Homo sapiens: one gene and its partner. The protein of the gene in region 2 interacts with the protein of the main gene of each other region in a biochemical or structural test. Each region holds a gene or a part of one and is shown on either strand. Other genes may lie near its edges.

Region 1 (3,652 bases), on a different chromosome or scaffold from region 2:
TGGACATTTGGGTGGATTCTCTCTTTTTCGGCTGTGGTGAGCGGTGCTGCTGTGAGCATTCGTGTCTGAGTTTTTGTATAGAAATGTTTTCTCTTCTCTTAGGGGTTTACATGGGAGGGGAGTTCCTGGGTCACGTGGAAACACTGTGTTTAATCAGTTGGGGGCTGCAGACCGTTTCCGCCGTGGCTGTGCCGTGTGCACCCCCCGCCAGCAGCGCACAGAGGTGGCGGTTCCCCCGTCCCAGCCGGCAGCTGCTCTTTTGATGGAAGCCATCCCAGCAGACAGGAGATGGTGCCTCACCGTGGCTTTGATTTGCATCTCCCCGGTGACTCACGATGGCGCCCGTCTCTTCTCATGCTTGTCGGCCATCAGGGTCGTCTTTGGAGAATCAGCTGTTCAAGCCCTCTGCCCATTTATTAGTTTTTTTTGTCTTTTTGTGATTGAGTGATGAGAGTTCTTCATACACTCTAAATGCTAGATCCTCAGATGTGCGGTTTGCAAACGTTTTCTACCATTCTGTGGATTGTATCTTCACTTTCTTGACAATATGAATGCATTTTTTAAAAGACTAAATGTTGGCCCTAGGGTTTCCATAGACCAGCCCCTGATTTTCGAGGGTTCAGGCCGGGCTCTGCCTCTGGGGAGCTGTGTGGCCTCGGGACGTCAGCTCTGTGGGTTCATTTTTCTGTACCGTGGGGTGGAGGTGTTTGCTGGGATTGATGGGGAACTGTGGGTGAGTCCTGCCCATGAGAAGCACCAGGCAGAGCCCGGCCCGGCCTTGGGGGCCGTGAGACCACAGGTGAGGACGCAGCCCTGTGCGGCCCTGGTAACCCGCAGCCTGTCCCTCCCCAGCCAACAACATCTGCTTCTACGGCGAGTGTTCCTACTACTGCTCCACGGAGCACGCCCTGTGCGGGAAGCCAGACCAGATCGAGGGCTCGCTGGCGGCCTTCCTGCCCGACCTGTCCCTGGCCAAGAGGAAGACCTGGCGGAACCCTTGGCGGCGTTCCTACCACAAGCGCAAGAAGGCCGAGTGAGTGCGGGGCCGGGGGGCTGGCGTCCGGCCACCCTACGGCAGAGGGAGCTGGGCCTGGGCGGGCATGGGAGGGTCGGCGCCCACGGGGGTGGCAGAGATGGGTGCAGAGCCTGCTGTGCGATGCTGGCCTGTGTGAGATGACCGCTTCCTGATGAGACGGTGGCAGAGGGCGTCCTTACTCCAGTATTTCCATGTGCTTCCCTGACCCGGGCCGGCCTGCCCACCAGGTCCCTCGAATCGGGGCCTCTCAGCGTTTGAGCTCTGCTCTCGCCCCGTCCCTCTCCTCACTCCTGCGGGAGAAACGGCCCCTGTTCTTTCCGCCCCACGTTGTCCTCGTGAGTGTGTAGTCCAGGTCCTGTTTCCCCACAGAGACTCTGCAAAAAACACGGGGCCCAGAGGTGAAGGCAGCTCCAGGTGGGGTCACCCCGAGGCAGGGCAGAGCGGCTCCGTCCCCTCCCACACCCGTGCTCCCGCTAATGCAGCCTCAGCGCCGCAGCCCGGGCGGGTCCATCTGCAGACGCCAAGGTCCCTGCCGCAGTGTTTCTCTTCTGCTCCTCATGGCACGCGCCGGGCTCCCCAGAATCTGGCCTGGGCCCCCCGTCTCACGCTGGCTCCCCGCAGGTGGGAGGTGGACCCTGACTACTGCGAGGAGGTGAAGCAGACACCGCCCTACGACAGCAGCCACCGCATCCTGGACGTCATGGACATGACGATCTTCGACTTCCTCATGGGTACGTCCCGCAGGGGCACGGGGTCCCCGTGTCACTCGCCTTGCGTGGAGCGGATGCACGCAGGGCTCTGCAGGGCACACTCCGTGGCACGGCCCGGCTGCGGTCCTGTGGCCTGTGAAGGGGCCAGATTGCTTAGAGGTCACGCTGGCAGGAGGAGACGCCGCTCTGCAGAGCACAGAGGCCTCTGAGCTACGTGGCCCGGCTCCCCACGAGCTGTGACACTTTCTGCCTCTCTCCGCAGGAAACATGGACCGTCACCACTACGAGACTTTTGAGAAGTTTGGGAATGAAACGTTCATCATCCACTTAGACAATGGAAGAGGGTGAGCCTGTCCTCGCCCCTGCACACCCAGGGAAGGGCCGGCCACCTCCCAGCTACCTGCAGCCCACCTGAGACCCTGGGGACGGGGGGAGCAGACCCTCCAGTGGAGGGATGGGAATGTCGCAAAGGCCCATCTCAGAGCCAGATGCAGAGGGCGGCCCCAGGCCCCAACCAGGAGGGAGGGCCGCCCCGGGAGTGGGACCTCCGAGGCACAGGAATGCTGCAGACCAAGTCCCGGCAGAGCTGGTGTTACCTGGGAAACGGAGGCCAGGAGAGGCTGCTGGTAGGAAGAGCAGGACCGTGCAGAATAGATGGGCCTCTGCCTGCACGCGGTACCTGGAGCCAGCCAGCGGGGGATAGGCGGCCTCTGCGGCCGCTGCTGGCCTGCCACGGGGGGTCTTGGGCGGCGCTGTGAGACCCTGGTTACCAGGGAGGGTGACCCCTAATAAGCAAAGCATGGAGGCGAGTAACTCGGGCAGGAGGACGTCCATTCCCAGGCTCGGAGGCCTCAGAGAGATGGACTTTGGGCACTTCAATAGCTAAACTGTGGGCTGACGCTCCCTGGAGCCATCTCAACTCGGCTGCCCAGGACCCTTCCCCAGGCCAGAGGCCAGGACCCCACATACAGGGCTGGGGACAGGCGGGGTGGACCCACTGCCTGGGGTGCTGGAGATGGGCAGGGTGGACCCACTGCCCGGGGTGCTGGAGATGGGCTGGGTGGACCCACTGCCCGGGGTGCTGGAGATGGGCAGGGTGGACCCACTGCCTGGGGTGCTGGAGATGGGGCTGGGTGGACCCACTGCCCAGGATGCTGGAGATGGGCTGGGTGGACACACTGCCTGGGGTGCTGGAGATGCCCGGGGTGGACCCACTGCCTGAGGTGCTGGAGATAGGCAGTGTGGACCCACTGCCTGGGGTGCTGGAGATGGGGCTGGGTGGACCCACTGCCCGGGTGCTGGAGATAGGCAGTGTGGACCCACTGCCTGGGGTGCTGGAGATGGGGCTGGGTGGACCCACTGCCCGGGGTGTTGGAGATAGGCGGGGTGGACCCACTGACTGGGGTGCTGGAGATAGGCAGGGTGGACCCACTGCCTGAGGTGCTGGAGATAGGCAGGGTGGACCCACTGACTGGGGTGCTGGAGATGGGTGGGGTGGACCCACTGCCTGAGGTGCTGGAGATAGGCAGGGTGGACCCACTGCCTGGGGTGCTGGAGATGGGTGGGATGGACCCACTGCCCGGGGTGCTGGAGATGGGCAGGGTGGACCCACTGCCTGAGGTGCTGGAGATGGGCAGGGTGGACCCACTGCCCGGGATGCTGGAGATGGGTGGGGTGGACCCACTGCCTGGGGTGCTGGAGATGGGTGGGATGGACCCACTGCCTGGGGTGCTGGAGATGGGTGGGATGGACCCACTGCCCGGGGTGCTGGAGATGGGCTGGGTGGACCCACTGCCTGGGGTGTCGGGTACAGGCAGGTGGACCCATGGCCCAGCTCCCAGCCCAGCAGCCTGTTAGGAACCTTGTACAGGGGCCCTTGACAATTCTGCTTTTCTTCTGGAAGGTT
Region 2 (3,652 bases):
AGGCAGCTTCTGCACAGTGCACAGCAGATACTCTGAGAACGGTCCGTGCTCCCAAGCTGTGAGACAGGCAGGTTCTTAGGATCAGGGCAAGGGTTAGCAGACAACGGCCGGGCCACATCTGATCCCCCACCTGCCTGTGCCAATCCAGCGTGGCAGTAGTAGCAACACTCACCCATTTTCCTGTGGTCTGTGCCTCTTTGTGCCGCAGTGGCCGAGGTGAGTCACTGCAGCAGAGACCACACAGCCCCCCAAATCTAAGTAGTATCTGGCTGTTTGCAGAAAAAGGTTGCAGTCCCTGGACAGAGGCTAGAGGGGGCTGGACACAACTGCCAGCCCTTGAAGGTCCCTGGGGACAGAGGCTGCTCAGGCAGATGGATCTGGAGGGCCTCTTAGAACAAGAAAGACCAGGCCTCCGGCTGGGGGTGAAACTGCCACTGCCACCCACGTCCAGAGCTGGGACCTTGGCAGTGGGGAGGGAAAATCCCTTCCCCTTATTTTCAGAGAGTAGACCCTCTGCTGCCCATCCTTCCCCCACTGGATCTTTGGAGGTCTCTAGACCACCAACCCACACTTGGCTGTTCTGTGGGACCGAGACTGTGCCCGAGGTGCTGCTCCTGGGACGAGGGAAGACTCCTCGACTCCTCTGCATGCTGCAGTTACCACTTTGTGCCCTGAATTGAGAAGGAGGGGCCGGAGGACTTCTTGGGGCAGGACTGGAGTTCACGTTCATTCCCATCACTGCCCAGCCCGCATGCTCCCTGTGGCTCCTAGGCATGCCGGTGGCATCTGCTTGCTCCCCCACACCTCTGCCCCCCTGCATGTGGTTGCCCCTCGCAGCACTGCGTGGGGTCTCCGCGGCTCCACATCACGCTGTCCTCACACGGTGATGCTTGGGGTTGCAGAGGCTGGTCAGTTTGGCTTTGGCTCTTCATCTTCAGCACGATGGTTCTCATGGGGGTGGGGAGCGCTGGCAGCTGTGAGACAGTTCTGGTCCCAGCCAAGTCCAGGGAACCGCCCTAGAATCATCAGTATGAAAAATAACATGCCTGTTGTTATCAAACCACTAAAACCACAGGCCAGCTAGCAGGGTGCTCTCTCTCCGCCTGTCAGGTTCCACCCTCCCGGCCTCCATGCCTCTGATGCCTTTCCCAGCTCTCAGGGTCCAGTCGAGTTGCAGCTACAAGCTGCACGTCCCCTAACTTTAAATTTACTAGCTCAGCCAACAGATCTGCATCTAGAACCTGAAGCTTTAGTGGTTGCCAGTTCCAGCACTCCCCAGGAGCTTCAGTTCACAGGCTCTCATGACAATTAGGAAGTGGGACTGGAAGCAGAAGGCCCCCAATTAGTTCCCCGACATGCTGAAGTGGTCAGTCTCATCCTTGAACTACTCACAGATCAAATTCCTTCCGCCTGGGGCCAGAAAGCGGTCAGGTCTGTAAATCCAGAGGCAGCTGCTGCTTAAGATCCTGCTTGCCACTGTCTGCCCGCCTCCTCAGCTCTCCCCTCGGGCCGGAGTTTCACACACTTCATGCCTCTGGTGGCGTCCCTGGGTTCCGCTGAAGCTGCTGTGGGAAGTGCCACCTCCAGTTTCACAGTGTGGCTAGGACAGTGGGCTTGCAGGCTGGTGACAGCTCCCCTGAGCAAGAGGCCTCCTCCTCCTCCCCCAGAGCTAGGGAAGCTGGCAGGGCTTGGCTGGCTTCACAGCTTGGCAGGAGAAAGAACAGGCGCGGCTGTCAGCTCCTCTCCATCACTTCTTCCCACCTTGTGGTCTCAGAGGGAAAATGAACCCAGGCTATAGACTGGGCTGGCTCTGATAGATCAGGACCCACCCCTCCATTTGAGGTCTGCAGGGCTGTCTTGACTCCTCTGGAAATGGACATGACTCTAGAGGAAGGTGCTAGTGTGGTAAAACAGGGAAGGGGAGGAGGAGGCCAAGGAACCCCAGCTGTGGGGTAGTTCTGGTTCTTCCATCTGATGTATGCAAGAAACTACAGACAATAGACCTGCCAGTGTGAATTTCCAGCTCAGGCTGGAAATGCGTGCTGACTGTGACCACCAGGAGAGGGCGTCAGAGGGACAAGATCAGACCTGCTGGGTTCTCAGTGGTCCCAGGGCTGGCAGTGTGTCTTGGTTCATAAAAGACGGGCATGCAGTTGGCTCCATCTGGAAGCGTGCATCCTAGGGTGCCAGTATCCCCCGAGGGGACAAAACTCAGCCAGCGGGAATGGGAAATTATCTAGGGTGATAGGAATATTGTCAGCACAACCACACAACCCAAGATCAGAAAGGCCCTTGGCAACTCAAATGCCCAAGTTCCTTCCTTAAGTACCCTGCAGAGGCTGAACAGGGTCTGTGGGCTGCCAGGTTCTGTGCGGGATCAAGGGGAGCTCTGCAAGCTCTGGCCGGCTTGGCGGCACAGACTGTCTTGCTGCAAGCGATGAGAAGCAAATCAGCAGTGGTTTGAGAAACCAGAGTCTAGCGCAGCTTCTGCAATTCCAAACATTCTCCTTCCTCGTCCCCATTTCCCCCTTTCCTTGCCCATGGTGCAGGATGGAATGAGTAAAATAAATTATCTTTTTCTCCCCATTTCTCTTTACAGAACTGAAGAATAACGAAGTTATCCTTAGCGTCCTCCTAAAGGCTTTTCCTTTTGGCATCTTAAAAGCTTGAGAGATAAAACGGAAACCCCAGAGAGGAGTCTGGGCAGGCTCCCAGGGTGCATGCTGCCTCCATAAATCTGCTGAGCTCTAGACCCTCAATCAGGACTTGTCCCTTGGCTAGCAGGATCCTGGGAACACCTTTGGCCCTGCCCTGTGTAGAGATGTTCATGTCTGTTCCTGTGGGTCACTTTGTTAAGCTGAAGAGTTTTAAGAGGTAGAGCTCAGACCCTGGACTGGGATTTTTCTTACCACTCAAACTTGCTATCCACACACCCTGCACACCTTAGATAAAAAGAACATTTTAAAAGCAGAGTTCACTTTCACTCCAGTCTCCCCTCTTTTGCCCTCACTGAAGCCAAACCACAGAAGACTTTGAGGAATGAGAGACAAATGAGGTAGAGCTCACCTGTGCTCACCAGCTCCGTCAGGGTGGTCAGCCGACCCCTTTCCCTGGGAACCCCACTTCTCTCTGTGGCTGGCTTGGTTGTCGGGGGTGAGATGCCATATTGATTACAGGGCAGCAAAGAACCAGTACCAGGAATTTACTTGACCATTCCCCTTATTTTTCATCTAGAGGAATCTCGGATTCAGCCCTTTCATTGCTAAGACACCTTTTCACTGAGGTTCTTACCAGCTCAGCCAAATCTCCACTCTGCTATAGCAGAAGCAATAATGTTTGCTTTAAAAAGATTTCTTGACCTATGCCTTTTCTTAGAAAGTTTGATAGATTAGTTAGAACTTCAGATCATCAGATCAGTCTCAAATGGGTTTCTTGGAATTTTATATTTGACAATATTTATACTATACCAAACTCATTTGCAGTTCTTAGGTTTGTTGGTTAAAACATTTTTTTAAAGCAGTAAGTTTATAGAAAATGTTTTCATTTAATGGAAGGCTGGGGAATGTCCAGCATCAACCCCTATGGCATGCATTCCCAGGGGCCTTCTCATCTGGGCCTGGAACCTTTGGTTCAGGGCTTAGGGGAGAACAGG

What was found.
Region 1: of the proteins of MXRA7 (region 2) and FAM20C, one has a biochemical effect on the other in vitro, tested with the Homo sapiens proteins (one large-scale study listed by IntAct).

What each region holds. Positions count from the first base shown.
Region 1 is NC_000007.14:254,997-258,648, forward strand, and holds part of FAM20C (extracellular serine/threonine protein kinase FAM20C precursor), read left to right. Parts: intron 1-852; coding exon 853-1,033; intron 1,034-1,657; coding exon 1,658-1,767; intron 1,768-2,008; coding exon 2,009-2,090; intron 2,091-3,649; coding exon 3,650-3,652. UniProt on the Homo sapiens protein: Golgi serine/threonine protein kinase that phosphorylates secretory pathway proteins within Ser-x-Glu/pSer motifs and plays a key role in biomineralization of bones and teeth.
Region 2 is NC_000017.11:76,679,827-76,683,478, reverse strand, and holds part of MXRA7 (matrix-remodeling-associated protein 7), read left to right. Parts: intron 1-2,599; coding exon 2,600-2,612; 3' UTR 2,613-3,652.